4 separate regions of the Homo sapiens genome follow, and regions 1, 2 and 3 are each linked to region 4. Evidence: fine-mapped expression QTL. A gene starts in region 4. Each other region holds a variant in brackets. All regions are shown on one strand. Distances are from middle to middle. Region 1 has its middle 39 kb from the start of SSBP2. Region 2 holds the start of LOC107986384 (a long non-coding RNA gene). Region 3 has its middle 9.0 kb from the start of ACOT12. Region 4 holds the start of SSBP2 (single stranded DNA binding protein 2).

Evidence for each region. PIP is the estimated chance that this variant, and not a neighbour inherited with it, causes the effect. A credible set is the group of variants that fine-mapping cannot tell apart.
Region 1: its variant is the best candidate, but not a certain one, in a credible set for the expression of SSBP2 in whole blood (INTERVAL, PIP 0.61).
Region 2: its variant is the best candidate, but not a certain one, in a credible set for the expression of SSBP2 in whole blood (TOPMed, PIP 0.71).
Region 3: its variant is the best candidate, but not a certain one, in a credible set for the expression of SSBP2 in cerebellar hemisphere (GTEx, PIP 0.75).

What each region holds. Positions count from the first base shown.
Region 1 is chr5:81,785,672-81,793,780 of GRCh38, reverse strand. No RefSeq gene overlaps it. Among named protein-coding and RNA genes, the nearest start is that of SSBP2, 39 kb to the right of the region's middle. The variant C/T (reference allele first, on the strand shown) is at 4,920.
Region 2 is chr5:81,776,086-81,784,194 of GRCh38, reverse strand. It overlaps LOC107986384 (a long non-coding RNA gene), which reads left to right and starts at 5,385. Exons shown (of 3, transcript XR_001742518.1): 1 at 5,385-5,437; 2 at 5,595-5,724. The variant T/C (reference allele first, on the strand shown) is at 4,973.
Region 3 is chr5:81,399,130-81,407,238 of GRCh38, reverse strand. No RefSeq gene overlaps it. Among named protein-coding and RNA genes, the nearest start is that of ACOT12, 9.0 kb to the right of the region's middle. The variant A/GA (reference allele first, on the strand shown) is at 3,465.
Region 4 is chr5:81,746,275-81,754,377 of GRCh38, reverse strand. SSBP2 (single stranded DNA binding protein 2) reads left to right here and starts at 3,281. Exons shown (of 17, transcript NM_001256732.3): 1 at 3,281-3,397. The coding sequence starts at 3,336. RefSeq lists silencers at 2,380-2,729, 3,000-3,329, 3,500-3,549, 3,990-4,039, 4,260-4,419.

The DNA.
Region 1 (8,109 bases), 39 kb before region 4:
TCAGGACTTTTTTTCTCCTAAAATCAGGGAGAGAGATTTTGAGCAGGCCAGCAGCATATTTAGATTTCATTTTTTTAAGAAAAAATCTCAATGGATGCAATATAAACCAAACCAAACCCAAACAAAACAAAATAAGGCATATGTGTAATAACTGCTATGTGTGAATTGTGCGCAAAGTACTGCAAAAGTCCCTGAGGGGCCAGGTGCCTCCTCATGGCTGTCGAGGGCCCAGGAAGGCGTTCTAGAGCGGGTGACCTGGGTCGTGAGGGGGGGCACCTCAGCACTGCAAATACCCCACCTTCTAAATGTGTTGGTTTGATTCCAATGCAAATCCTCTCATTCTTGAGAACTTTGAAGACAGTATTACTCAAGCACCTTCTAAAACTGCAGTCCCATTTATTATTTATCTGACACTCCTGATGACTTTCTTTCTTGTCAGGTCTATGAATCTGAAGGAATTTTAGAGCTCAGATAAAAACTTTCTTGAATAAATTATTATAAAATTTTCAATTTCTAGGAAAATCATCAAACTGCAATAATAATGCTAAGCACCATAAACGAAGTTTGGTGTTATTTCCTGTATGGTCTACAAAAATTTTACAAAAAAAAGTTGAAGAATGAAGTTTGCATGATCATTAATGTGGCTCTTTTTCCAGAGAAAATAGATTCTCTCTTCTAATGAGAGCATTGTAATTAAAAAAAAAAATGAATCTAGTTAAAGGGATTTGGGCATGTCATGTATGAAGAAAATTTTGACGGAAATGAATGTCAAATTTTTGTTTGTCAACAAATAACTACTTAAAATAACAAATAATATTGAGCAATTAGTAGTATACACAAGTGTGATCTTTGCATTTTGTCATTTACTACTCAAAATAGTCCTATGAACCACATGCCAGTAACCATCATCCCCATTTTACTAACAAAGAAGCAGAGGCCTAGAAAGGTTATATAACTTGCCTAAAGTCATGCAGTTACTAAGCACCACAGCGGAGATTGAAAACTAAATTTGTCTCCAAAGTTTATATTTCATTGCACGGCTGCTGCAGTTCTTTTTCTTAGAGATCTTGGGGCTTTTAGCTCCTTCCTTTGGGCTAGATATAGGATTTCAGCTTTGGGTACTTGACCAGACATACAAGTAGGAGACTAGTACAGAAAGGATAACTTGTTTAATAACCTCATAATCACCAGTGATTCAATAATTTAATATTAACATTAACCTCCATAGCCTTCCTTTCCATCAGCACATTATCATCTTTATTGAAGGATATAGGATATGGCCCTAAATTACTTATTTTTCCTAGATTTGTACAACTCTGCCCTATTGCATTGCTTTCTTTTCTTGTCAATCTGTGGAGCATTATTGGCTAAGTGGGATTGAGTATATCTTCCAACGTTAATTGTTTTCAGTTGTGAAAAGGGCGTTCCTGGAGTGGAAGGAGGGTAGCACAATGGTAAAGGGCAGCTCTGGCTTTGAATTCCAGCTCTACCATTTGCTTGTTGTATACTTCTCTTGATAAGCATGTACAGCATATGCCCAGAAAAACCTCCTTCCAGAGGGTAATAAATTAAGTTCCCTACTCCATCATCTTCTTTTTTTTTTTTTTTTTTTTTTTTTTTTGAGACGGAGTCTTGCTCTGTCACCCAGGCTGGAGTGCAGTGACGCGATCTCCGCTCACTGCAAGCTCCGCCTCCCGGGTTCACGCCATTCTCCTGCCTCAGCCTCCCGAGTAGTTGGGATTACAGGCGTGAGCCACTGCGCCCGGCCTCATCATCTTCTAATATGATCTTTTCTCATCAGGTAGAGGTAGGAGTTTTAATAGTCATATTGCATCCTTGATTCAAAGATCCTGCTCACATTTAGTAAGAATAAATTAGTGTTTGCTTATCATATTTAAACTTTTGATTTAAAATATTTTACTTTCAGTGTAGCCACTATGACACTATTTTTCAAAAATGTCGGTTTCCAAAAGAGTAGACAAATATGTGCTATGGTTTGTATATATAGATAATACTATAATACAATGGACCAATAGTGTCCATGTAAAATTGTCTTCCACTAGGACTGAAGAATTTGTATCAATGTTATAATCAGAGCTGTAGGGAAATAAATATCACAGGCCAGAAAACTACCAGCCAGTTAATGCCAGTGTTGACAGAGTCATGTAGGCACAAATAGGTCTTCTGTTACTGGCTGATATAAAACTGGTTGTTTTTTGAAGGAAGCATCAGGGATGAACAAAAAGTCTAAAAGATTTCACATCAGGGCTACAGTTTCACACTTAATTCATTCAAATACTGATAAAAATGGTAATGAAGAATGAAGGCCATGCTAATTGCAGTTCAATAATTTTAGTGATGCCTTTGCTCTATACTGGGGGATCCAGTTTCCATTACACATCTATTGCAAATCATTCACTTGTTCTAGTGTTTATTAAGCATCTACTACGTAAGAAACTGTCTTAGGGACTATTTTGTTAAGGATCTTATGATCCAGAGGAAGGGCCCGTGCACTCTCACATGACAAAGAATATAGCCGCAAGGTCAAATTCCTTTACAACATAATTGAAGGAACATCCAAATTATTGTATTTCAATAGAACCTTATTTTATTGGATTTCCGAAATAAGTAGTTTATTGGCTAAGGCTGGGGAATCTTTTGATAATAGTGAAGTTTTCATTATGATGGTATTTATCATAAGGAGATCTGAACTGTAATATAATACAATTACAATCATAAATATAATTATGAGGTGTAAGTGCTAAGGGAATACAGGAGAGATTAATTAGAGACAGGTGGTTCCAGGGCTTCTCCAAGGGCTTCTGGTAAGTTCAGGGGGAGATCTTGATTCTCTCCAGATTCTGCCTTCGCCCAAGGGACTCTCCTACACTGAGAGCTTATGGTGGAGAAGAGAGGGTCTTTTCCTTCACACTCAAGTCAGAAGGATCCTTTGGCTCCAGCTTTTAGGAGTCTCACCTTATTTCTTTAAAATAACTAATATTACTAAAAAATACTCTGTTATCCATTAAATAACTTATCTTTTGAGACCTTCGATGATGGCTCCAGATTTGAAAAATAGCCTTTTAAAATGAAGTGACATGCAGAGGACTCGGGTCAAACCCCCAAACGCTGTTGAGGAGAGGCATGCTTAATAATGGGCCCCGTGAGTTATGAAACATTAATGGATCCTGACACAGCTGTCACTGGGACACCGTGGTCACTCTCATCTGGTCAGTCGTGCATGAGGTCTCACTTTCATTCGAGTAGGGATGTGACCACTCTACATCTTTTTATCTTCTCATTCACCTACACGTTTCACAGCCTTGCACATTTCATATTAATAAGACTCTCCTAATATTAAGCCTTGATTGGCCGACTGCTGGGTGTATTTGTTTTGAAATAAGCTGTTTGGATGGATGTAAACATTTTGACCATGCTGACACTAAAGACAATCTTTTTTTTTGAAACAGAGTCTTGCCCTGTCACCCAGCCTGGAATGCATTTCATACATCTTCAAACACTCCCACTCTTTGCCAGCTTTTAACCCGAGTCTATTAGTCTCTGCCTCTTTTCTCAACCCTCTTTAATCCATCTTTTTTTTTGAGACGGAGTCTTGCTCTGTCCCCAGGCTAGAGTGCAGTGGCCCGATCTCAGCTCACTGCAACCTCCGCCTCCCTGGTTCAAGTGATTCTCCTGCCTCAGCCTCCCAAGTAGCGGGGATTACAGGCACATGCCACCATGCCCAGCTAATTTTTGTATTTTTAGTAGAGGCGGGGTTTCACCGTGTTGGCCAGGATGGTCTCAATCTCTTGACCTCGTAATCCGCCCGCCTTGGCCTCCCAAAGTGCTGGGATTACAGGCATGAGCCACTGCGCCCGGCCTTTTTTTCTTTTCTTTTCTTTTTTTTTTTTTTTTTTTTTTGATGGGGTCTTGCCCTGTCACCCAGGCTGGAGCGCAGTGGCGTAATCTCAGCTCACTGCAGCCTCCACCTCCTGTATTCAAACGATTCTCCTGCTTCAGCCTCCCGAGTAGCTGGAATTATAGGCACGTGCCACCACACCCAGCTAATTTTTGTATTTGTAGTAGAGACGGGGTTTCGCCATGTTGGCCAGGCTGGTCTCAAACTCCTGACCAGATGATCCGCCCGCCTCGGCCTCCCAAAGTGCTGGGATTACAGGCGTCAGCCACTGCACCCAGCCAAGACAATTTTAAAACTAACTTAGGGAAATAAAGATCGTGCTAGGTTTTGCTGGATACTCAGCACGCTAAGCTTCAGTATGCCTGTGCACAGCAAACAGCAATTGGAAGTTCCTGGATGGCCTTAAGTAGAGCATCCCTGGCCTTGTGGTTATTTGACTGTATCAATACATGTTTAACTGCCATTAATAAGAAGCAGAAACAAAACTAGTCAAAGCCCAGTTTAAACCAGAAATGAGAGTTTTGTGGAGCTCTAACTCCCAAGGCCATATAATCAAGTGTATTGTGCTGACCATCAGCTGTCAGGAACACCGAGTCCCCACTTCAGCTTGGTGATGACTCACTCTGCTGTCCTAGGTGAGTCACTTAAACCCTCTGCTCCTCAGTTTCCCAACTCATCTCTCTTCACATGTATGCAAAGGACTTGCAGAAAGAGTCTTTTAAAAAATGACCTGTTTTCAGCTGGGTGTGGTGGCCCACGCCTGTAATCCCAGCACTTGGGGAGGCCAATGCGGGCGGATTACAAGGTCAGGAGATCGAGACCATCCTGGCTAACACGGTGAAACCCTGTCTCTACTAAAAATACAAAAAATTAGCAGGGTGTGGTGGTGGGCGTCTATAATCCCAGCTACTCAGGAAGCTGAGGCAGGAGAATCGTTTGAACCCAGGAGGTGGAGGTTCCAGTGAGCCGAGATTGCACCACTGCACTCCAGCCTGGGCGA[C/T]AGAGCGAGACTCCATCTCAAAAAACAAAACAAAACAAACAAACAAAAACCTGTTTTCAAGCATCTGAGTGTGTAATTGTTTGACAGGAACAAAGAAAAGAAACTTTTTAAAACAGCAAACTTCTAGCTCCCATTGATTTTATATCAGTAACAAATTACACTTTGTTGCTATATAGGATTGGAAATCAGCAGTCAAGCAAAAGTGAAGTTCCAATAATCTACATTGTTGAAGTGCCAACAAACAAAAGTCAGTTTGTCATGTTTCTAAACAACTGGAAAGTTGGGAGCAGGCTGAAGCAGTGAGGAAAACCTTAGGCAGGATGGAACATAGCTCCGGGTTAAGAGGAGGTGGTAAGGGTGAAGTGGGATCTATGGCTTAACAAAGTGGTTAATTGTCATCACATGATTCAAATATGTTTATTTCTTAAACCTTCACTCCAGACTGAGGCGGACAAGGGGCCTCTTTCTAATTACAGATGACTATTAGCAACCAACAGGGAGAAAGAAAGAAAAATGAAAACAAGAAAAAAATGAATGAAAAAGAAAAGCACTGTAATCCTTTGCATTATCAAAAGTGATCAACAGTCGGTTCTTTACAGGCTGTGAGAACAACATTTCCACATTATTTTCCAGTCACTGCTACCAGCAGAAACTCCCTATAGAAGGAGGCTCATAGCAGCTACACACAGACAACAGAGAAGGAAGCTGCTTGGTATAGCCGTCACCTTCAGGACAACAGACAGCCAACAGAGCATTTCACCCTGAAGGTGTACGTGTGATTACACAAAACCCTCACTTGGTCATTTTTTTTACGTGTTTTAATAATGCTGATGCAAAATAAGAGTAAAATTACAGGTGCCAGTTCCCATTGTAGAATGCTGATAAACAACTTACCATTTTGCAGTGGCTGGTCACATCTGGAGCCTTTTGGGATGCAAAAGTACTGGAAGGATTATTGCAAAACTTAAAGACACTTTTGCTGCCATTACTTTGTTTTTAACCTAAATTAGTGTGGGTTTTCTTGGGGGGGTGCTGGGGGGATGCTTTTTTAGATAGTCTTAATGCTTATATTATAAACTTATTTAGTTAAACACTAACCAAATAACAAAATGAAAAAGGGGGTTAGGTTTAGAGTAGTTGCTTGAAAACTTTTCCAAATTGACCTTAAATAGACAGAGGCTGGTATAAAACTATGGATTGGTGGATTATGACTTATTAATTTTGGTACTATCAAAATCCTCAATTTAACCTGATGAAACTTGATTTGTCACTGTTGATATCTCTCTTACAAATGTTGAATTAGCATGTAATGTGCACAGTGTAAGAATAATAATATAAATGGAAGTGCATTGTTCCTATTCTTTATGGAGCTATGGTTTTTCATAACCACAAAAGAACATTAACATAAGAATATAATGTATTAGGGTATAGTTAGTATTTTGACTCTTTTTTAATAAAACTCTTCTTTTAGGATATAAATATTTCTCTGTATTTTGTGTCTGCTGCAAGGTAATTTGGGCTGGTACCAGGACTAGACATGGATGGGTGGAGAGAGTCTGGATCTTCCCCTTTAGGGTTTCATGATTCTTGTATGTTTTCCTCAGGTTGCTTCAGGACTAATTCTGCTTGTGTGTAGCTAGTAGAGCATGATCCCCTTGCCTTCTTTTCTTTTCGTGCTCCTCAGTTGAGAATATGCAATCTAAATCCTTAAGGTGCAAACTAGTCATATCTACCGAAGTCCAGCTTCCAGCAGATTCTTTGCTATATCTAGCATGTACGAAATCAGACATTTTAATGAACGCATGTGTTTTCCTGTAGTGTTACGTGGACTGACAGGCTGTGGAGATGTCTGAAGTGATTTGGCTGGACTCATTGCAGTCCTCCAGAAATCATTTCCTGTGGCATCATGCAGTGCATTTCTCCTAGGATTTCCTTGTCAAGAATATTCCTCTTTTAAGCAAAATAATAACTTATGGAGCCTAATGGATTTTATAGCTGAAGATTGAAGTAGTGTGCCCAGTATGTGAAGCATTCTAGCTTTCTTCATGCAAATGAGCAGATATGCTTAACAAGTCAATCTTGAATCTATTTGGTGAAAAAAGCCACTCTGTTGGCTGTGTGCTATTAGTACATGTAGATACAAGCACACACGGGCTTGGACGTGTATTAGCATCGGATGTTACTTCACTGAGAAAGTGATCTGTTGACCAAAATATGCATATCTGAATGGAAGCAGGCCTTTGTGGTGCTCTTTTCAATTCTAATCTGCTATGGTCTGAATGTTCGCATCTCCACAAAATTCACGTGTTGAAATCCTAACCCCCAAGGTGATTGTATTAGGAGGTAGAGTCTTTGTAGGGTGATTAAGTCGAAAGATCAGAGCTCTTATGTGTGGGATTAGTGCCCTTATAAAAGAAGCCCCAAAAAGCTTATTCTCCCCTTCCACCATGTGAGGACACAGAGAGAAGGCGCCATCTAAGAGGAAGCAGGCCCGTACCAGGCAGCAAATCTGCCAGCGCCTTGATCTTGGACTTCTCAGCCTCCAGAGCTGTGAGAAATAAATTTCTCTTGTTTATAAGCCACCCAGTCTATGATATTTTCTTATAGCAGCCCGAATGGACCAAGACAGCTATTTAAAGCCTGTGTAGTAGGAGACTTTCTGGCTGACTCGGTCAAGAAGTCAAAAAGAGATTTCTGTTTTCTTCCAAATCATGCTTATTGATTTGGAGTGAAATTCAGTGATGGGCTGTAAAGTAATAGGACTCACATAGTGAGTCAGAGGAAGGAGAAGATTAACATTTGTTGAGTACCTAATATGTGCCAAGCTTTTTTCATAAATTAACTCATTTATTCCTTACAACAAACTGGAAAGGAAATATTGTTACTCTTCATGTATAGATGAGAAAACTGAAAGAGAGGTTAAATAACTTGTCCAAGTCCAGAGTTCATATTTAGAAGAGCCAGAACTTTAATTTGGGTCTAACTCTAAAGTGTACGGTGTTTCCAACTATAGTGTGCTGCTTTCTGTGGCTTCTGAAACGTTATATAGGGGGACTCAGAGGGAGATAATTCCTTTGGAGGAAAACATCTCATATTGTTTGAAGTACATTTTCAAACCTACTTAGTAAACCTATGTGCTGCAAAGTGGGCCTGTTCCTCAGTTGTCTATGGTCCCATCTGCATTTTACAT
Region 2 (8,109 bases), 30 kb before region 4:
ATTCTGTTAAATTTTCCAAAACTTGAAAAAGTGGTAACATTTTAAAGATGAAAGGAATTTGTTCCTTTCCTCAAGAAAAGAACAGTCTGGTGTAATGGACAAATTGAAATGCATCAAAATATAAAGTGCCTCTTTATTTCATTCGTAATGGACATATCTGTTGGCAGTGGCCACCATGGCAGAAAAGAGATGGCAATTTTTCATGCAGGAACATTACAAATAAATTCCTGTATGCTTGAAATGTCTGGAAAAGTCTGTGGAAATGGACCTTAAATGGTTACACAGTTAACATTCAGATATCAAAGAATTTTGCAAAATAGAAACTGTTTAAATATTAAACATCAAATTTTCCTTCTTTCAAAGGACTAATAACTTAGCAATAAAAATTGTCTTTGAATCTTGCCATCACAAGGTCTCAGTCAGGCAGTGGATTTTAAATGAAAACTTGCAGGCAGCTCTTATTTAAGCAAAATTAACAGCTGAGCAAAGAGGAATGAATTAGTAGACTGCCCCAAACTCACATTGACCAGACAACAGTCCACCTCCATTGCAGCACAAGCCTCTCTGTGGAGCTGCCTGCAAAGCGAAACCAGGATCAATGCTGTCAGGGAAATGCTTCTGCACAGAGGCAAGGCACTAATCAAGTTCTCCTGCAGCTGCTAACCTGATCCCCAACCGTTAAAGAAGAAACACACAGCCATGAGAGAGGAGCAGATGGTGGACAAGGAATCAGAGAAAGGGAAACAATAATGGGGGAATCCGGGGGCATGAAAATATTGGGCCACCCCAACAATAAAAATCCCTTTGTCCATAGTGATCAGGAAACGTTTTATTAAGATGTTCTCAAATAGGCTCACCCACATGAGGCAAAGGGTAAGGTTTGCCCATGCAACACCTGAGGCTGTTTCTGGGTAGGCAACTGGGGCCTTCGTACCAGTTTCCAAATGGGAGCCCTGTTACTGAACCAGAGTAAGAAGGCAGGGCCCAGTCAAAAGTAGCAGGAGTCATAACCTGGGAGGAATGGAAAGTTAGGAAACATCAACATATTTTTTTTTTCTGTACAATCATGTGCCGTAGATAAACGTTTTGGTCAATGACTACATATAAGAAGGTGGTCCCATAAGATTATACTAGAGGAAGCAGAAAGATGCCTATGGCCTAGTGACATCATAGCCGATGCAATACAATACATTACTCAAGTGTCTGTGGTGATGCTGGTGTAAACAAACCATCTGTGCTGCCAGTCATATAAAGGTCTAGCATGTATAATTATGTACAGTACATAATACTTGGTAGTGACAATAAACCACTACATTGCTGTTTTATGCATTTACTGTACCACACTTTTTACTATTTTGAAGCATAATCCTTCTACTTATTAAAAAAAAAAAAAGTTAAGTGTAAAACAGCTCCAGGCAGGTCCTTCAGGGAGTATTCCAGAAGAAGGCAATGTTATCATAGGAGATGACAGCTCCATGACTGTTATTGCCCCTGAAGACCTTCCAGTGGGACAAGATGTGGAGGAGGAAGACAGTGATATTGATGATCCTGATCCTGTGTAGGCATCGGCTAATGTGTGTGTTTTTGTCTTCGTTTTCAACAAAAAAGTTTCAAAAGTAAAAAAAAAAAGAAAATTTTACAAATAAAAAAGGCTTGTAGAATAAGTTTACAAAGAAAGACATTTTTTTGTAGACACAGTCATGCTCTGTCGCCCAGGCTGGAGTGCAGTGGCATGATCTCAGTTCACTGCTGCAACCTCTGCCTCCCAGGCTTAAGCAGTTCTCAGGCCTCAGCCTCCTGAGTAGCTAGGAACACAGGTGTGTGCCACCACATCCAGCTATATTTTGTATTTTCTTTTTAGTAGAGATGTGGCTTCGCCATATTGGTCAGGCTGGTCTCAAACTCCTGGACTCGAACTCCTGGCCTCAAGTGATCCACCCACCTTGGCCTCCCAAAGTGCTGAGATTACAGGTATAAGCCACTGTGCCTGGCCAGAAAGAAAATATTTTTGTACAGCTGTATAATATGTTTGTGTTTTAAGCTAAGTGTTATTATAAAATAGTCAAAAAGTTAAAACCTTATAATGTTCATAAAGTTAAAAAGTCACAGTAAACTGAGGTTAATTTATAACTGAGGAAAGAAAAATATTTTAATACATTAGCATAGCCTATGTGTGCAGTGTTTAAAAAGTCTACCGTAGTGGGCCGGGTGCGGTGGCTCATGGCCTGTAATCCCAGCACTTTGGGAGGCCCGGGCAGGTGGATCATCTGAGGTCAAGAGTTCGGGACCAGCCTGGCCAACATGGTGAAACCCCGTCTCTACTAAAAATACAAAAATTAGCCAGGTGTGGTGGCATGCGCCTGTAATCCCAGCTACTCGGGAGGCTGAGGCAGGAGAATTACTTGAACCCAGGAGGCAAAGGTTGCAGTGAGCCGAGATCGCGCCACCTCACTCCAGCCTGGGTGACAGAGCGAAACTCCATCTCAAAAAAAAAAAAAAAAAAAAGTCTACCATAGTGTACTGTGATGTCCTAGGCCTTCACATTCACTTGCCACTCACTCACTGACTCACTCAGAACATCTTCCATTACAACCTCCATTCGTGGTAAGTGCCCTATATAGGTATACTATTTTTTATCTCTTATACCTTATTTTTACTGTACTCTTTCTAAGTTTAGACAAGTTTAGATATACAAATACTTACCATTGTGTTGCAGTTGCCTGCAGTATTCAGTACAGTAACAAGCTGTACAGGGTAGTAGCCTAGGAACAATACGCTATACCACATAGCCTAGGTGTAAAATGTGCTATATTAGGTTTGTGTAAATAAACTCTGTGATGTTCACACAATGATGAAATTGCCTAATGACACATTTCTCAGAACATATCCCCATCATTAAGTGACACATGACTGCATATTTTAGAATCAGCTTATGAATTTCTACAATAAAGCCTCTTGGGATTTTGCCTGAGATCACATTGAATCTATAGATCACTTTGGAAAGAACTGACGTTATGACACCATTGAGTGTTTCAATCCATGAACATGATATCTCTCTGTTTATTTAAATCTTTTTTCATTTCTCTCTGCAATATTGTATCCTTTTTCAGCACAGAAGTTATGCACTTCATTTATTAAGTTACTTCTACGTATTTAAAATGTTTTTTGAAGCTATTGTAAATTTTGTTTCTCAATGTTATTTGCTTTCTTAAAAATGAAAAATCCTCATTGTTTTCTTATTCTGGAAAATATAAAGATATAGAAAAGAAAGTATCAATTATAATATTACAGCCTAAAGATTATTATTAACATCTTGGTGTATATCCAATACTCTTATTTATATTCATACCTACATATACATATTTTAAAAATATAAATGATGAATCTGTCCTTTGAAAATAAAAATTAAGCCAAATCAACATCAACATAACCTAAGAAGCATTGAGTGACTATCCTAGACCTACTTTGGGCATTGATTTAAAAATCCCTGTATATACCCATTTTGGGGAAATCAGAACACATTTTTTTCCAACAGAAACAATGTTTAAAATGGTAGATTATCAATTCAGGCCAAGCACAAACAAACAAAAAAAAACAAAAAACCCCTACTTAACCCATAATGGCTTTTAGCCTTCTGTCCCTGGCCAATTTTTATTTATTTATTTATTTTTATTTTTTTTGAGATGGAGTCTTGTTCTTGTTGCCCAGGCTGGAGGGCAGTGGCACGATCTCAGCTCACTGCAACTTCCGCCTCCCAGGTTCAAGTGATTCTCCTGCCTCAGTCTCCAGTGTAGCTGGGATTACAGGCATTCGCCACCACGCTCAGCTAATTTTGTATTTTTAGTAGAGATGAGGTTTCACCAAGTTGGCCAGGCTGGTCTCAAACTCCTGACCTCAGGTGATTCTCCCCACTCAGCCTCCCAAAGTGCTGGGATTACAGGCATGAGGCACCATACCCGGCCTGTCCTGGGCCAATTTTTAAATCCTTCTAAGGTAGCACAATCCCTATGCCTTTATTCTCTGTAAGCCTTGGGCCTCTTAAAATCCTCTAAGGAGAGAGACCCAGGATGGAACTGGTGGAGGAGCTTGAGCAACAGCAGGAGCTGGGAGTTGGGCAGGGAGCCTTGTACGATACTGACTCTAGGGTTCCTGTGTCTAAGCCTCAGAAGTCGGGTGGACTCTGGCAGTAGAACCGAGTAGTGCCAACTTTTTTTCTGTAGTAATCTTTCCCAAAGAAATTCTCCTGAGGCTGAAATTCAAGAGGTCTAACCTCAAGGTAGTCATGTTGACCAAGAAACATAGCCTGTACCTAAAAGGTAATTTCAGAATAATTGATTGAGTTCTTTATTTGCCTTTCTCAAACACCATGCTGTCAGCACACAGTCCACAGCCTCCTTTTCTACCCCTCTTGACTTCCTATAGCTTTTCAAGAACTCTCTTCTCTAAATCTTGAAAACCTTTTTTCCTAGACATATCCCATGTGCCTTTTTCCTTCTTCTCTTCTCTTTCTCTCAATTCTGCATTCTCTAGCTCTAAAGAAGCATCTGGCAATGACAAGACCCTCCCTGAGGACACAGGGGCAAGGACAATGCTGGGAAGGCCCCACATGAACAACGTCCACCAAACGTCCCTGAGTGGAAGCTTCCTAAGTCAGGAAGAGCCTGTGTAGCTTGGAAGACTTGTGGGAAGTTCTGAAGGCTGGGGAAAGATAAAACTTATTCATAAAAATGTATAGCTCATTCTCATATGTAAAGATCATAGATACCTCAGAGGGAACTTTAGAGGCATGTCATTTTCAGGAATGTTTTATCCACTTTGCTTTGAGCCTCCATTACTAAACCATGCAACAAATTGTCTCAGCCCTGAGCTCCAGAAGGGCCTAGGTTTGGAATTCTGCGGAGCTGCAGGTCAGGAGGGAGCTGTTTTGGCAGTGCAAAACAGGGAAGCTGGCACGGCGGCTGTCTGTGCTGTG[T/C]TGATCTTTTGGTCTGATACTTGTTTTTAGTTTCACTTTCTTTTAATTATGGTCTTTCCATATCTGACCTTAACAGCACCCATTCTTTTGGTTTGTTGGTTAATTTTAATGATAACAGTGTATTACCATTAGAGTGGTTTCTCAGGTCACAGTGTATTGCAGAGAGCAGATTGTTAATTAAATGGTAATGTTTTCTGAATTTGGAAGTAATTTCTAAAGTTAATAGTTATTAGTTACCTTGAAATTGTAAAACAAAATCATCAGTATATAAAATCAGTACATAATTAGCAAGCTGTCCTCCAAGAAGCAGATCACATCATACTGTGTCCAAAAGGAACAGCTTTGCTGACAAGGCACTGACATAGTTAAGAGAAACCATGAATCACGTAAGGGGCCAGGAAAATGGTGCTGCCCAGCTCACATTCAGAGGCAGCATAATTTATGAAGCTCTGAGGACAGTGGGAGGTAAGCTGTCAGAAATGCTAAGTCCTCTGTGGAATTATTACATTCCCTTTGAAAGATTCGATGTCATTGAAACGAGGTAATCTGGGGAAGCTTGGAGGTTCTGTGCAATTGGGGAAATATGCAAAGATACTTGGAAATGAAGCCAAATTTTTTTCAGCCCTTTTCCCACTGGAAATCAGGCCCAAGGTCTTATGAAAACAGACTTTCTTTTCAAACATCAGGAGGAAATACTGCAAGAAGGATGCCCATGGCACTTTGAATGTTCCGGATCCACCAATATCAGAAAGGTCAGAGCAATGTAGAAACTGCGTGGACTGTGACTTTCAGATCTGTGTTTGCTTCCTCTCTGAGCACATTCTTTTCAATTATTTAAGATCAGATATTGTCTATGAGTTCAAGGGGAAAAGAGAATGAAAAAATTAGCACTATATGTTGATGAGTTGTGCAAACTTATTATCAGTTATTATATTTATTATTACTTCTGATAAGTACTTTCTAACACTTACTGTTGAGTGCTTACTGAGTGCTGAAAACAGTGTGGAGTGCTTTGCCTGGGTTATTTTACTTAATCCTGCCATAAATATAAGCACCACCTTCAGTTTACGGATCAGGAAACTGAGGCTTAGAGAAGCCAAGCAACTTGCCCAAGATCACACAATTTATCAGTGCTGGAGCCTATATTCCGGTCAGTTTCTTTAGCTTTTATAAAGGTATCAAGTTTTAATCTAATAAAAATATTAAAATGACTAGATCTACTTGACATTTTGGAATTGAATAAGATTCACCTTGAGGTAGAGTCCTCTGGATTTTGGCATAGCAGACTGACTATTTTTTTTTTGTCAAATCATTTTTATACAATTCCTTTCTGGTCCATAATGGCTCTGTGCATGTACTCTCTGAATATAGATGCAATCACTTCACTGTTAATGCCTACAGAATGTTTCCTCAGTAAGAAAGAAAGTTTATGCAACTTTGGAAAATGGTGTCTGAACACCAGTCCAAAACCACCTCATACGACTGTCAGATTCTTTTTTTTTTCCCCTTTTCTGTTCATATACACAGTTCATCCATTATGACTTGGATCATCAAGAGATTTCTTTTAATGGGTTACATTATTTTCTGTCACACAGCCACTTATTTCCTTGGAGGTCCATTGTACACACTATCCATTTTCCATGGGGGTAGGTAGTCCTGTTTCTGAAGTATTTATAAGAAATTTTATCATGGTTTCTATGGCAATAGACCATGAGAACATTCCTTCAAGCCATTTAAGATGATAATTCACCAAAACAAGTGCATTTATTTTTGTTTACTATTCGGCCATTGAAAGGTCTGGGGTAACTTAGTTGGCAGTTTGAAGAAACCTTTTCCTTCTCACTTCTGTGCATCAGGCAGCTACCTGGTCAAAAAAATTGATTTTAAGAAACATGAATGGCCACAGAGCAATTTTAGCAACAGTTTTTGCTGAACCTTTTGTGGTAAACATTGCCATTTCCTAGGTGCAGAGTGATTGGACTTCAAAATGAACCATCAAGCCCACAGGCAAGCTTAGTACAGAAGGCAGGCCTGCTTTCCAGGATAGTAGTTAAGCTTTTCTCTTCTGAATCAAATATCAGAAATAAGCCTTTCCCATTTGTGTATGATACCAGAATAAATAGAGGCCCCTCACAAGGGAAGCATTTTGATTCAGCTCAATTCAACAGATGGTTATGGGGACATAGTGTGGCATTGCAGAAGGACAGCAGGCTTTGGGCTCACCAGAACTGGATTCAAATCGTAGCTTTAGCTGAGGAGCCCTGAGAAAATGACTGGCCTGCTTTAAGGCTCTTTCCTCACTTGGAAATTAAAAACAATAATGCCTACACTGTCAGGGTGTTCTAAATATTAGAAATAATATATATGTAAACTGGGACCTACTTGGTCCTATCTTGGAGAAGAGACAGAGGCTAGAAACAGAAGTAAATCACATTCTTTACCTGGGTTTCTCAGAGCACAATAAAAGATACCCTGTTTGTAATCTACGACAAATTGATTGGGAGAAACATGAATGGCCACGCCTTTCTCTCATCCTTCTCCCCGAAGTCCTGCTCTCCTAGGGCTAATCTTTCTTTTCCTTCCTCTTCCACCCACCTCATTAGTTCTGTCCCTCTGGCTCCAGGTCTCTTAATTCTGCATCAGAAATGCCTAGGAACCTGGAAAAAGTCTGATTCTCCTCAGAGAGCAGGGAAGAGGAGAAGCTGCAGAGCAAAAGCCAGAATTCTCTGTAGATGGCAGAAAGGGCGTGGCCAAGACTGCAAACACACACCCATAAAGAGGTGTGCGCTGGCATATGCACAGAAAACTCAATTCAGTGCCTGGGACCTAGCAGGTTCTCAATGAAAAGGTCCTAGATTAATAAGCGCCCACAGTGTGCCAGATACCTCATAAGTATGCAGGTTAGAGCTCAACGAGGGGGAAAATAAGATCCCTACTTCAAGGAGTTCATAGGGTAGAAGCTGTTCTTGAATGTAGGTGTCTATTTTAAGCTGTTACCTCATCACTAAAACAATGAATATGCACTCAGTTATTTCCATCAAATACCCTATGCCTAATAGAACATTTACATGGCATACATGACAAATTAATATATCAGTTGCATTCCAGGGAAGGAATTTCAAAATGACCAAGAAACA
Region 3 (8,109 bases), 350 kb after region 4:
CAAGTCTATATAGCACACAGTAGCAGTTCGTTAGAATGAAAGAATGAACCACCACCACGCCTCCCCTGCAGCAATCCCCTTGCCGCTGTTGGTTTCTATAGAGACCCATGAAACTTTTAGCTATTGCAAATTTTATTTTCAACTTGTAATTCTTTATCAACATATTATTAGGAATTGTATACTTTGTGTTCTCAGCTTTTCTTTAAAATTTTTTTACTTGTCAGCCAGGCGCGGTGGCTCACGCTTGTAATCCCAGCACTTTGGGGGGCCGAGGTGGGTGGGTCACGAGGTCAGGCGTTCGAGACCAGCCTGGCCAACATAGTGAAACCCCGTCTCTACTAAAAATACAAAAAATTAGCTGGGCGTGGTGGTGGGCGCCTGTAATCCCAGCTACTGGGGAGGCTGAGGCAGGAGAATCGCTTGAACCTGGAAGGCAGAGGTTGCAGTGAGCCGTGATCGTGCCACTGCACTCCAGCCCCGGCGACAGTGCGAGACTCCGTCTCAAAAATAAATAAATAAATAAATAAATAAATAAATAAATAAATAAATAATTTTACTTGTCTATCTGAGTTTTAGCAGTTTTTAAAGGAAGAAACAAGAAAGTGTTCAATGACTGATAGAAAATGATAGTTCAAAAACAAGCTGATTATTTTTATTAAACATGATAACTGACTTCTACTGATAAATGTTAGGCATGTCATATTAGGTAGACATTTGATCATGGTAGATCTTGAGTTTGCTCACCTTTTTTATGCTACAGCCTTTTTTTTTTTTTTTTTTTTTTTTTTTTTTTTTTTTTTTTTTTTTTGAGACGGAGTCTCGCTCTGTCGCCCAGGCCGGACTGCGGACTGCAGTGGCGCAATCTCGGCTCACTGCAAGCTCCGCTTCCTGGGTTCACGCCATTCTCCTGCCTCAGCCTCCCGAGTAGCTGGGACTACAGGCGCCCGCCACCGCGCCCGGCTAATTTTTTGTATTTTTAGTAGAGACAGGGTTTCACCTTGTTAGCCAGGATGGTCTCGATCTCCTGACCTCATGATCCACCCGCCTCGGCCTCCCAAAGTGCTGGGATTACAGGCGTGAGCCACCGCGCCCGGCCGCTACAGCCTTTTTATGCTATAATACCATAACAAATGTCTATTAATATTTTTTATATCAGCTTTAATGGAATATTATAAATGTGTAGTGACATTTTTAGTCAAATGCTTTTGAATATTTAATGTTTGGTAACAATAGGGGAAAGCAGGGGAGGAAGAGAGCATGCCCCTTCATCCTTAATTACTGGTCCTTTGCATGCAGGAAATATGGCTTGATTGTTTTATTGTCCACCTCTTCAATCAACAATTCTTAAATATGGTGCATAGTAAGTGTATCTAGGCTTCTAAGACTTGCACAAATCTGTAAACATAAGCAATATAAAGCTATGTTAGCTTGCATGCTCATCCCATCTATTGTACCATTTATGTGAACTTGATTCATCCAAACATGTCACCACAGTATTTTTTCATCCAAACACATTTATCGTGTTATTTCAACATCTGATGCAGGCGCTGGGGGTCATGGATTGGTGGAGAGGCGCCCATACCCAATTATAACTGATTAATTGTATGGCTTTCAAAAATTGAAATAGCAGAAAATAATAATTGAGGAAAATAATTAAATCATAGTCCAACATATTTCAGAAACCTATGTATTTGATGGATTGCTTACAATAATTAACAGCTTAGAGCTCTGAAATAAGACTTGCTTCTTTGCAAGGAGGCAAGTAAAATTGACCAGTGAGTATGCTGATTAAATACTGTGATTTCACTCTGTGTCCCAAGTGATTTACGTGTACATCAACGCAAAAGCTAAGACTGAAGAGTGAGGCAGAAGGTGACCAGGTTAGCAGGCTGGGCTGTGCCGCAGGGCAGCAGAATGAATATATGCACATTGTTCTCTGGAGTGAGCCTTCCTTTCCCTGAAGCTGAGGGTCTGTGGGAGCCTAAGGGGCTCCATAAATCTCAGCACTAGTATATTCCAGGGGATGATCGCCAGCAGCATTAAGAGCTATGTTTAGCCTTTATGCCATACTGTATCTTTATTAACCCTTCAGATGCAAATTCTGAAACAAAACATTAAAATGTGACTCACTCCAAACAGAAAGATGGAAATGTATTCCTACTAAGAAATATGTGTAACTTCTAGAAAAAGAAAAAAAAACCCACAGAGATTTGTTTTCAACATATTGTTTTTGCTTAAGATATATTTTTACTCTTAAAAATTAAGAAATAGAAGGCCTTTTATTAGAAGCAGTGTAGTGTCACAGAATGACAAAGCACAGTATCAGCAGACAGAAAACGTGGGTTCTAATCTTGCTTTCCCTACATAACTCTCAACTGGTTATTTAGGTTCTCAATAAAGTAGAATGATGAAATACGTCTTCTTAATGCTATTGTATTTTGTTAATATCTAACACTGTTGATATCAAGATGAGATCTTATAAGTAGCTGGAAAACTATCAGTGTAGGGAAAGAATCTGAAAAAAAATTGTTAATCTATTTTTCTGCTGATACGAGCAAGTTAAGGGGTCTAATTTACTATTTTTGAGTTCACTTTCCTTTGTTAATAGTCTATTCTCATTGAAATGCCAGAGAAATAGTCGAATAATGTCAATCTTTTCAGACAACTCCAGGATCCTAAAGAAAAAAGCAACTAAGGAATGATGACAGCAGTAATGTGAAAAAATGTATCATATGCCCAGTGGATTTATCCCGTTCACATAACTGGCTAACAAGAATGTTTTTTATGAGAGGCTGAGGCAGGAGAATTGCTTGAACCCAGGAGGTGGAAGTTGCAGTGAGCCAGGATCATGCCACTGCACTCCAGCCTGGGCAACAGAGCAAGACTCTGTCTTAAAGGTTAAAAAGGTTTTTTAATGCCTAGTCTACAGGACTTTTGTCCCCTTTATTGCATTCTGAGCTTCACTATGTCTAAGCTCTAAGACTCTGACCTAATGAGTTGCTAGTAGATATTTCAAGAACAGAGGTATCAAAATCTCAAAACATATTCATATAACTCATTCTTGTGGAGATTATTTGCCATTCTTTTTCATTGCTTTGAAGAGAACTTTAAATGTCCACTTAAAGGAAGAAAGCTACCATAATAATACGGTTGATGTAGTATTGAAGTTTTAGTTCCTGAAATGTTTAGAATATGAATTTAGAAAAAGAAGAAAAAAGATGCCACAGATAAGTGAATTTCACAAAAATATCTTAATTAAAATGCCCAAAGCCGAATTATGGTTTAGCATCAAACGTCACAGAACCTGATTTATTTTGGAGGTAGAGAAAAAAGAGGACAAGGAGGCAGTTGCCAGATCACATAGGGCATTTCGGGAAAAAATCCTTTGAAAGTCATTTTATAAAATCTTTGTTAGTCTATGGTTCATTATAGACATTTTCCCTTAATTGGTGGGCAAGGACTTG[A/GA]AAAGGTGAGGCTTGTTGGTGGCTGACCAACCTGCCTGATTTGAGGACGCACTGATGAGTCTTCAGGTTTCTGCATCTTTAGCACAGTCATTTATAGCTCATATACATATATATGTATATATGTGTACATATACATATATGTACATACATATGTATGTATATATATACACACACATATATATTTTATATTTGAATTCGGTTTCAAATAGTTTTGTATTTTACATTAGGTATGTTTGGAGAATTATGCTGCAACAAATATACATAAATTATTTGGAAACAGAAATATCTTTAAATTGGGTTTTCTTAATGAAGGCTCCTTAAAAAGAATAAAATTATTTTCTTTATGTTTCACCATTCTATATAATAAACCTTTACCTGTTTCAATGGTACTTGTGTCTTGCAATTTTCGATACATTGTAGAATAAAGTTCCATTTTACAAAAAATATTTTGATAAACCATGCTGAATTTCTACAGTTAAAATTACCTAAAAACAACTCTTAAGGATAAAACAAATTTCAGATTAATTATGAAAACAAGAATGTGGCAGGGCATGGTGGCCTACACAAGCAATCCTAACACTTTAGGAGGCCAAGGTAGAAGGATTGCTTCAGCCCAGGAGTTCAAGACCAGCCTGGGCAACACAGTGAGATCTTGTCTCTACAAAAACAATTTTAAAAATTAGCCTACATGGCACAAACATCATTTTGTTTGTACACTACCTATCTGAGATAAATGACTTGAAAATGTGATATTATCAGCTGGATCAGTCATCTGATATGAGCTATAAACGTGCAGCACAAATGTCACTCAGAGACTGAAAAATGAGTAAAAATCAATAATTTCTTAGGGAAAAAAGACTGCCTAGAATCTTATTAAAAAACATTCTGGGGGTCTATCAGTTAGAAATATTTTGGTTACACTGACAGATAACCAAATTCAAATGGGCTTAGAGCAAAAAATGGGAGGGCATAGGGGACACTTACTTGTTCACATAACTGGAAAGCTCCAAGGTCAGTTGGTTTCAGGTAAGGCTTGATCCAGCAGTTCAGCAGTATTACTAAGGACTTGCCTTTACCCATATTCTTCCCCATGCCTGAATGTCCAGGTAAGAGTCATTGGTCATTGTAAAGATTTGTCCAGCTTCCATTCTTCATTCCTAATCTGAGTTTGTTTTCCTTTTAGAGAATAACTCCCTAGTGTGTTTAATCTTAGTAAGAAGGTAATTATTCCAGGCACCAGTTTCATCTCTACTGAAAGGGAAAGAAACAGATTTCACCTCTCCCTTTGCCCTTCCCTTCCCTTCCCCATCCCTAAGTTTATGAGCAGACATATGACTTAAGCTTGGTCAGGTAGATGCTGTCTTCTGGACTTTGGATCTTGACAGAGTTCCACGGGATGGAAGGAACAGGGGCAGCCCTGCAGCATAGCCTTTGCTCCTCCCCACTGTCAAACCTGCTGTCCATATCTAATCAATCCTGGAAGTCCTACAAGCATTTCCCTTTGCTTAGGTTGCCTATGTCCTGCTGTTTGATTGATAGAGCAACAGAGCCTTTGCAGGAAAGCCCGTGCAAAGGAGAACCTCCCACCTTGTGTCCCCAGGGCACTAAGTATCATATCTTTTGATGTGCCCATATCGATAAACATTGTACTACTGACTTAGCAATCTGTGTTCCCCACCCTACTGAGCTCTCTAAAAACAGAGTACTTAGCTTATGCTTAGCCCAGTGTCTGGTCAATATTAGATATTTAGAAAAATCTGTGTGAATGAATGAATGAATGAATCACTTTAGGGAGAAAGGACATGCTTGTATTAAACAGTTCTTAAATTTAAGTCATACATTATCAAGCACAAATAATAAGGGCTCTTTACAAAGTATCGAACTGCCATAAGGAACATTTTTAGGCTATTTTATGAGGACTTATTCTTTGAGGATCTATATACCTGTCAGGATGAATCTTGGTTCATCCCTGAAATTTAATCTGAAGGCTTCTTCAGTGCAGATTGCTCCCTATCTAATAGGGGATAAATATCCATTATGCCACCAGGAAATGCCTCTGACATTTAAATGCATGCCTTATCCTAACTGAAATAAAGGATCTCAATTCTCCCCAGTTTGCCTGCAGCACCACTCCCAGGAGCCAAGCCCTGGCCTGGCCAATGACACCACATGTGTAGAAAGATACACTGGGTTTTGCAGGTGCGTCGGGACGCTCTGAGGAGGGGAGGGTAAGACGGTGACACGCACTCCTGCCACTCTTACATCGAAGCCTGACCCCTGCACTGTGTGATCACATACAGGCTCAGCCTCCTGCAGGGGCACCCGCATTCCAGCCTGGCACGGTGGGCACCCAGCACCTCCCAGGGGAGCAGGGCAGTGCACCGAGAGTCGAGATGCTCCAGCAAGGGTGGGCATAAACCAGGGCTGGTCTTCCTCTACCCTTCTCCTTCCCTTCCCCTCCGAGTAATGTGTGTCTAGCCATTAGGTGAGACAGAGGATATGGGTGTGTGCCCAGAGCAGGACACTGCCCTGAGTCCAGTGGGGAGGTCGGGAGGGAGCCCCCTCAGGGCCAAGGGTGGCAGAGGAGCAGGGAGGTCGCTGTCATATGGGGGACTGACCAAAGAAGTCAATCTATTAAGCATCACAGAAGCCAGGTTTCTTGTCAGAAAACGGAGTTGAAAATATGAGGAGGGAGAAAACTAGAATTATCCCTTCAGGTGGAGTTGGAATCTGACCCACCCATCTGAACTGGTGGTTTTCTAGGTGGCTGGTGTGTTCATTTCCTACAGCTGCTGTAACAAATTGCCACAAACTGCGGGGCTGAAGACAAATTGATTCTCCCACAGTTCCAGAGCCCAGATGTCAGAACTCAAGGTGTTGGCAGGGCCGTAATCCCCAAAAGCTCTAGGGGAGATTTCCTTCCCTGCCCCTTTCAGCTTCTAGTGGCTCCACAACACTGAGTCCTCACATGGTGACCTCGAGAGAAAGGAAAAAAAAAAAAAAAAGGCAAAGAGGGCCTACGTAGATAGTACTCTCCAGCCCTGTTACAAGGGCACTCACTAATACATTCATGTGGGCAGAGCCATCGGGACTTATCACTTCCCAAAAGGTCCCACATCTTAAAACTGTCACATTGGGTCTTAGGTTTCAACAGATGAATTTTGGAGGGACACATACATTCAAACCATAGCAGGCTCTGAGGATTCATGTCAACTTCCTCATTTTGATGGTGTGTTATGGTTCAGTAGGAGAAAGTCCTGTTTATAGGAAATTCACACTAAAGTACTTGGGGCTAAGCATCAGGTTGGCAACTTACTTTCAAATGGATCAGAGAAAAATATGTTCTTTGTACAGGACTTCCAAATTTTCTGTAAGTTGGTGATTGTTTTAAAAAACAGACCCAACTCAGCACTGATCTTAAGTCTAGTAGACGGTCAACAGCAGGTTATAATTTCAGGAGCTGCACACAGCCATCAGCCAGTTTCCCTATGTGCTTATCATTCCATTTCATCCTCATTAGAATAGTCAACATTATTTTGTAGCCATTTCCATGTTATCTTTAAACTATGAATTCTATAAAGTTCTAAGGACCAATCTATTTTACTCACCAGCATTTATCCAATGACCAGAACAGTCCTTGCGACAAAGTAGGCACTCAATAAGTATGTGCTGATTGAATGAATGAAGGTGACTTGAAATAGAGGCACCAGCATGGCCTTTGGAGCTAGAACTGGGCACCACTCCCATCTCTCCCACTTCCCATGTGTCCTCTGCACCACATGCATCAACTTCCTAGCCCAGCTGAACAAGAGCCAGACTTTCTAGATTTGAATCCTGACTCTACTACTTCCTAGTTATGTGGTCTTGGGCAAGTTCCATCAGTTTCCTCATCTATAAAATGGGAATTGTAGTAGTTTGTATACTTCATAGGGATGTGTGGCATGTTGTAAGTGCTTATGAATTATCTGGGCTTGATTTCCCAGCTCTTTAAAGAGAATATTACTTGCAAGGTTGTTGTGAGACTTGACCCTCCATAAATAGCAGTTATCATGATTCCATTTGATAATACTTTCTATGATCTAATCACAACTTTATGAAATAGGGAAAGCATCCCTATTTTGTTAAAAAAAAAAAAAAACAAACTAATGTGTAAATTGAGTGATACATTCGAGTTCAACACTAGCAAGGATAGGGTCTAACTCAGACACAAACACATCTCTCCAGACCCAAGACTGTGACCCTTTTCCCCGCATCACAAATTCCTTTACAGGTCTGAAAAGGCCCCCTGTTAAACTGAAGATGTTCTTGGGAAGGACTGCACTGTAAGCTTTACTCTTTTAAAGAAAGACACCATACGGCAGTAGTTTTTAACATACTGTGCAGCAGAAGCACATGGAAAAATTGTTAAAAACAGGTTATTGGCTGGGTGTGGTGGCTCACGCCTGTAATCCCAGCACTTTGGGAGGCCGAGGCGGGTGGATCACAATGTCAGGAGTTCGAGACCAGCCTGACCAACATGATGAAACCCCGTCTCTACTAAAAATACAAAAATTAGAATGGCATGGTGGCATGTGCCTGTAATCCCAGCTACTCAGGAGGCTGAGGCAGGAGAATCGCTTGAACCCAGGTGGCGGAGGTTGCAGTG
Region 4 (8,103 bases):
AAGGGCAAAGAAGCATTTTATTTACATGTGAAAACATTTAGAGGAAAATAAAACAGAGATGGTTCAGGTAGCTGCTGAGCTGTTTTAATGATAATTGATTTGATTACTTAAGCTTTAAGGTTACTATATACAGGATACATATACATATAAAAGTCATGTTTTCACTTTGTATATTTGTCAGATGAGAACATTCTTATAAAGGTAACTCTGACATTAACTTCGCAAGTTCTGAACTAAGACCTTTTAGCATTTTATTCTTTCCAAAGACTAAGACCAAATTGTTCTAAATTCCATACCCCACTGTGCAGATCTATAATTTATTTATTTTTTAAACATCAGAAAATATGCCATTACCCATAGGACTTCCAAATGTAACAAATCTGGGTAAAAACCAATCAAATGAATAAATTATAGCAGTAGACAGCAAACAGTTTCTCCTGTTCTCTTTCTTCATTTTCCTTTCTCTATAGGAAATAGCAAATTAAACCATGGCTATTCATGATCTTGTACTATGAGAACACATATGGGCATACATTTTTGTCCTATTAACAAGTTTGTTGGCTTGGTGGCAGAAAGTAAAGTACACTGTAAAGACATCTTAATGCTTTGAGTAGGGTCATTTGTTAATGGACAGCCCAACCTAAAAGTCTTGTACTAATCTCTTATGGTACCCATTGGCTGTCTTTAAATGGATACTGAAGAGCAAAGGCAGGCAGCCCTGGTTATACACAAGAACCACGTGGAGCTTATGAAAAAAATGCAGGTACCTGGGTCCATCCCCAAGGTTTCTGATCCAGTTAGTATATAAACAAACAAACAAAACCCAACAACAATGAAAATAAAGGCAATTCTAACGTGCCATGATTGAGAACCATAGTTAAGAGAGTCCCAACACCAGTGCAAGGATAATACCTACTTTGTTTTTGGATAGTAGGACAAAGCCCACCCTTGGTTCGTTTTTCCAGGGGCAGGCAGGAGGGTGTCTGAGAAGCTGCCAGAGCTCTCTGAGAACTGACAGCATTCTCTGAGCAGCACCTTTATAGGGAGTATTCTATAAGAGATGGAGCCTTGATATACTAAAAATTTTCTGGGTTAAGGCCAATGGAAGTAGATAATTGAACAAAAAAATTACATAATGCTAACCTTGAAGTTGAGTCTGTAAACTGTGGCAACCTTATACACATTTGAGCATTTTGAGCAAAAGTTCATTAAGAGAGGCTGACTGGCTCAGCTTCGCTTCAATCACCCAATCATTGCAGGTCATTAGAAACAAAAAGAAGAATATGAATGCCATATCCTAACCACCCAATAACTGTAGGTCATTAGAAACTGACAGAAGAATTCTTAAGTCAGAAATGGCAAATTACATCTCTTGGAAATTAATCTACTTAAGCCAGTGTATTTTTTTCCCCCACTTTTCCCCCCTCATTTCCTTTATTGGCTTAATTTTTGTCCTTTTAATAAAAGTGCTTTTTTTCTTATATCTTTTTTTTAACGATAATGTCTGTCCTCTATTACTTTTAATCTTTTGCTATCACACTCTATGGCTTCTTCATTTAATCCTGTATCTTCTAGTCTTCTCATCTTTTTATACCTCACTTTCCTCATGTTTTTTTCCTTGTCATTAACACCAGTATAGAAAGTCCTTCCTCTTCATTTTCCCGTCTTTATGTCTGGTTGCCAACCGCGTTTTTGATTCTCGACCTCTCACTTTTGCTAACTGCCCTTCCTTAATCATCTGTTGATGTTTTATTCCTATCACTTCTGTCAATGCTCACACCCATTTCTTTCCTTTCCATCTATCTGTATATCTCCATATGCATTTTATGATCCTCCTACTAAATGCTTAAAGCTGTGTGTGTGTGGAATAGAACGGTACCTTCCTCCACGCGAATCCGATTTCCCTCTCCTCCCATAGCTACTTCTTGTCTATTCATCCTTTCCAGATGTCGCCCTGTCCCACCCCATCTGTCCCCTTCTTCCCCGTGTGAAGCCCATCTTCTTTCTAACCCCATTTGCACCCGTCTGATTTTACAGTCAAGGACTTCAATAAGATAAATGATGCAGAGTTCTACTGGGAACCAGATTGTGTGTGTTTCTGAAACTTTTGCGCGTTTACTGAAATGGGATTAGGGATTTGGATACAGAAACATTCTCGGGCAGCCTTTCAGCCCTGGCACAGCTTTGTACACCTTGGAGCGCGCTGGGGCCTATTCTAACGGGCAAGGACAGGGAAGTCTTTCAAGACCTTTTCTGGCCTTTTCCACTCCAGGGGTCAGGATGAATAGGCATCACTGACCCAAACTGTTAAACCAGGCCGGGTGGGGAAGCCTGGGGCCCTCTTCTGCGGCAGATCTGGCGGGGTGTCCAGGGCGCCGCGGGGCTCCGTGCAAGAAGGGGTTGGGGCAGGGGCCGCTGCGGCCGCAGGAGTCACCGGGCCTCCTCGGGAGGTCCGCTCACCTCTTACAGAGGAGGCCGACCCCAGGCCGGGTGCTCCCCTGGGGCGCAGGGCGCGGCCCCGGGCGCCGCCACCGCAGCGGCGCCGAGGGCCGGAGGTGCAGCCTTTCCCCAGGAGAGAAGGCGAGTCGCTGTCGGTCGCTCAGCCAGAAGGTCGAGGGAACCGCGCGGGTGTCCCTCGCCAGCCGGCCCTCTGGGAACAGGGCGGGGGCGACACCCCAGGGAGTAGGGCTGAGGACCGCAAAAATCAATCGTGGGTACCGGCGCGGGGTCACGCATAGGAGAGGAGCGGGAGAGGGGCTGGTGGGGGCCCCAGGGCGGCTGAGGCCGTGGCTCTGTCGTGGACTCGGCGGGCGCCCCGAAGTCTGGGGCCGCCACGGCTCCAGCTCCGCCGGCTCCGGCCGGAGACTCCAGGCCGCAGTTTCTCCTCCTCCCGGCGCCTTCTCTCCAGTGAGGAGCTGAGCGCGGGCGGCGCGGGGGGAGGGGTGGCGGCGGAGAGAACAGCCAGTTGTTTAAAATCCTTCTAGAGCAGTTTCTAATTCCCCCCTTGCGCCCGGGTTCGGAGGGGGGAGGGGGAAGGAGAGCGGGTGGAGGGAGGAGAGCGGAGAGGGAAGGCGGGAGGGAGGGAGTCGGGGAGGGAGGGAAGGAGGGAGGAGACTGCCGCTGAGGCTTAGCCGCCACCGCGCGCTTCGGAAGGCCAGAGGGAGGGGGAGGCCTGTCAGTCTCGCGCGTTGCCTGGGCGAAGGGGGCGGAGCTTTGGCGTGGGGCGGCCAATAGTGGGGGTGGCTGCGTGGGTCGCCATGGGGACGGGGCTGTTCCCGGGGAGGCTGTGATGGGTTGACAGGTGCGTGACAGTGGGAGCTGCTCTCGGCACAAGCATGTACGGCAAAGGCAAGAGTAACAGCAGCGCCGTCCCGTCCGACAGCCAGGCCCGGGAGAAGTAAGTGTCTCCGCTTCTCACCCACCTCCGCCTTCACACGCGCGCACACTCACGCACGCACTCGCACACTCTGGGAGACACAGACACTCTCCGCCCGGGGAGCGCCGGGGGTGGGCTGGCAGGGGGAGGGGTGCCGCGATGGGGGCGTGTGGTGCGGGGAGCTGCGCTTTCCCGGGAGGTGCGGGCGCTGGGCGGGCGGCCGCAGGGGGCTGTCGGCGGGAGGGACCGGGTGTGTTGAGGGGCGGCGGTGGTGCTGGTGGCGAGGATGGAAACTTGTTTGGGTGATTGAGGGAAATAACCCGCGGGTTCACCTTCCAAAGTAACTTTAGAGCTGGGGTCCGGGGCTCCGGGGACCTGGGGAGCCGCCGGGGGTGGCGGGAGGGGCAGCTGCGTGGAGGAAGGCGCGCAGTGGGAATGTGGGTGTTTGGCGGGCCGGCCGGGGTCGGGGCCGGGGTCGGGGCGGGCAGCGCGGGGAGCGCGGCGGCGGGGGCCTGGGCGCTGGGGCTTAGGGCCGCGAGCGCGGGGCGAGGCGAGGCGAGGGCGGCGGTGCCGGGCGCGCGGCGGGCGGAAGCCGGGCGTGGAGCGGCCGAGCGGGGCCCCGCGGGGCGCGGAGACGCGCGCGGGGCGCGGAGGGCGTGTGCGGGTTGGGCGTCCGGGCTTTCCTGGGCCAGCTACGGACGCGGCGCCCGCAGTCCCCCGCGCATCGCGGGGCTGGGGCTGGGGCTGGGGCGGGGGCGGGGGCGGGTGGGCGCCGGAGACGCCGCCGAAGTTTGGGAGTCGGAGAGGGACCGAGTTCCCGGGGAGCTAAAGTGTGTTGGCGAGGAGCGGGATCCGCTGGAGGAGGCTGGCGTTTCTGCCTCTCGCAGCGGACCCAACTCCGCGGCGGCGGCTGGCGAACTTTTTGTGAGGCTGGCAGCCCCCGAGCGGCGGGAGGGGCGGGCCCGGCGGGGCGGTGGTCGGGGGCGCGCGGAGGGGAGTTGTGGGAGCCGCCGGGGGCGCCCGAGGAGGGCAGCTGTGGCGGGGAGGGCCAGTGGTCCGAAAAGGGGTTTGTGGGAGGGGAGAAGCGTTCAGGTGGGAAGGAGCCGCTTGGTTACAGTTGTGGGGAGATACAGGTGTTAACTTCGGTGGGAGCCCAAGAGGCGGCTGGCGAGAACAGAGCCCCTCCCGGCCCGGGATGCCACTGTCACGGCACACTGCAAAGCAAAGCGGTTTGCTGCTATTCTTGTGTACTTGTAACGGTGATTTGGTTGTTACTAAAAATGAGAACGAATAGTGACTGTGATCACTGAGGAAGAACCCCCCCCTTTTTTTTTTAAACTGTGCAACAGATCAGTGATTCCCAGTAACCACTTAAACTCTGAGGGTCAGAGTTATCCTTGTCGTTGAACGCACCCTGTCTTTCTGAGGGGGTTCAGACCAGAGAAAAAGTCTGAGAGCATCTCTCAAAGGTACTTTGGTTACCTTGCGCACAGAAATAGCTGCGTAAATAAAAACCGAATGCGCAGGCGACTGAGTTTCCCTCCTTGGTTTAGGCAGTTAGTCTCCCCCTGAAAGTTTTGTGTGCCCTAGGGATGGGAACATTTCCTAATCTTTGTGTTGGCAGCAACACACTCAATTCCCATAGGATTTAGAGGTATCAGGCCTTGATGTAGCAAAGCAAAACAAAACAAAACAAAAATTAGAGAGGCTTTTTTGTTTTTTTGCAAGAGATATTTTCTGAGCTGCATTCAGGATCTTGTTGCTGTGACAAGTAGTATATAAAAGACATAGCGTTATAGCCTGGTTAAGAAACGGCAGTTACTAGAATTGAAGTTTTGAAATGCAGTCTCATTTGTGTGCATTAATCATTTTGTTATAATGTGCCTGATAAAAACATCTGAAGGAGGATGTTTTAATGATCACAGAATATTTGAATTTCACATTAGTCAGAGTGATTGAAATGTATTGAGGCATGATCTTATTTTGGGGGTGACTGAATTTGAGAATCAAAGTAATTTTAGATTTTAGGTGAACTTCCAGGAAGGGGTGAACTTTAGTTGAATCCCACTCAGTATCCTGAGGACTGCTTGATTTTTTTTTTTAGTTTCTCAGATAATAACAAGGATGTTGGAACTTGCATAACTGTGGTCCTTTCTAGCTCTAATTCTGTGATTTCCCACCAGGAAAACAAATAATTGCCACTTTGCTGTCAAATCTACCAAACTGAACACCAAGTAATATCTACTCTCGTGAGCAGATCAGGGTTCTGCTAGATGGTGCTATTTGATTTAAATATATTTCTTCCATTCATTTCAATTGGCAGCAGGAATTCTTGACTGGTTTGCCTTATGAACTTAAATATAGGTGAAGAGGCCGCTTTTGGAGAATTGACAATGACTGTTCTGGGTTAATTGTCGTTGCATTAATTTCTAGGTTAATGTTGTTTGAATCTAAGACAAACATCGACGTAGGTTCTGTCTTATAGAATAAACTTAATTTCATCTTGGTGGGAGAGTTGATCTAATCTCTCGGTTTTTCTCTTTATGTTTACTTGGGACTTTAATGGCACTATTCTGCAACAATGTACTAACATCTGAAGGTAGGAATCTTGAAGTCATCATTAAAATGGATGTCACCAGATTTTTGTTCTTAATTTTTAAGGTAACAGATTATAAAAGGTGAAGAATTCTCCTTTAGTAAGCAAATTAGAACTGTTCTTATCTTAAAAATCACAGAAATAATTTGTTTCTGTAACAAATACTCATTTTAACAAAAACATTCTGCAAAAGGAGTCATTATTATAAATAATAGCATGCTTAGGAAATAAGCACATTGGTTTTATAATCAAGAAATGTGTTTTCTAACATGAGTTCATGGTGAATAGTTGACAAGTGCTTACCTGTATTAGATCTTTGTTTTGTCTTTCATTAGGAAGTCACTATATGAAATATTTGAAGTGAATTATTGGTTTTACACAATTCCTGTAATTTCAGTATACAGTTCTGATAAAAATGATCAGGGTAAGATTAGTTACTTACTCTGTCATTTTAAGAAAAGCAGATCAAGTCTTAATTATAGAGGGAGTGATTGAAAACCCTTGGAGGGAGGTGGGATTTAGAAATTTTAATTCTGATCTTGTTAGGTCATTTCTTCCTTTAGCAGGCTTTCTTTATAACACTAATCGCAATTGTGATTAAATAACCGTGATTGGCTGTTTAATGTTTAACTTTCCCTAAAATATAAGTTTGTTGAGGGTAGGAGATAATCTAATTTCTTCTCTGAGGTATCTTGAACATTAAGGTGCCTTCTAATACCAAAAGCATCAATAAATTATTGTTATTGAAGATGTTAGACTCAAAGGAATTTTTTCAATGTAAAAAAATTTTTTTTCAGTGACCTCCAAAATAAGGACTTGTAAGTTTGAGTTTCACATTCTCTAGCTTAGTTGTATTTCAGAAATACCCCTAAACAACAATACAACAAAAATAACTATTATTTATTTGCCATCCTGTGTGCCAGTCACTATGTTCAGTGTTTTATGTATATTTTTTTCTTAATTCTCCCAACAAATCTACAAGACAGTTGCTTTTTTTTTCCTCCATTAAAGAAATATGAAAACTAAGACCCTGAATGGTTAAAGAACTCACCGAGGGATACAATGCTAGAAAACAGGAAAGCTGGGTTTCTAACACAGATTTCTCTAACTTTAGAACCTGTGATTGAAGCTGAAAGATACATTTTTCAGTGTACCAGATTGTCTTCCTGAACTAGGGTAGGATGCTACAGATTTAGGGAACAGCATTACATAATCAGATGTGACAGACTTTAAAGATTTGATCAAATATGCAGTCTTAACCACTGGTGCACCCTGATGCTTTGCAGATCTGTGTATGGTGTGGGAGAAGGCACAGAAATTTTAGGAAAGTTGGAAGCCTAACATAATGACGAAAACTTGTTTCTTCAGATTCCCCCCCCCCCCAGGAATTTTGTTTGATTGCTTGTTTTAAAGTTAAACATAATAGTTGTGAACAATTCCTATATGAAATGTTGCTGAACTTAAAGCCACACAGTATGCCACACTACCGCAGAAAGAGTAACTGGCACCTGCAAATAGATGAGTAGTGATATTAATTTTTTATTAAACTAATTTGATCTTTTATGTAAAGCACAGAAAGATGAATCTGCTAGAAAGCAAAGTTGAACATAAAAGATACACATAATATATACCGACTTTTATTTAGTAAACTAGCCAGAAACTACAAGAATCAAACTGTCTAATCTTGAGCTCTGAAAAGTAACTTTGGCTTTTAAATTTTCAATGTTAGTTGAATATACCAAGAAGCAAATACCATATGCTTATTTCAAAGTAGTTACAGTATAATGAACATTTAAATGCCACTTCATATAAAAGGGATTAATATCTGCCAGCATCACCTTGTTCTCCCCTTCTACCATTAAAGTAATTAAAGCATTCCCCCATCATTAAGGTACCCCCTGCAAAGAAAAATGACAAACCTTTCTTTCTTTCTGAAGGAATAAGGCAAGAAAAGTAATAGAGATCTCTTCAGAAACTTACTTGACAGCAATTCGCACAATTCAGGATTTCCAAAACTAATGAAGGAGTATCTTATGGAAGTGAAATTTTGTGTAAAATATTAAATTGCCCCTCCCCCTTTCAGTCTCCAGGATGTTCCCCCAAAATACAAGTTGTTTAACTTGTATCCGAA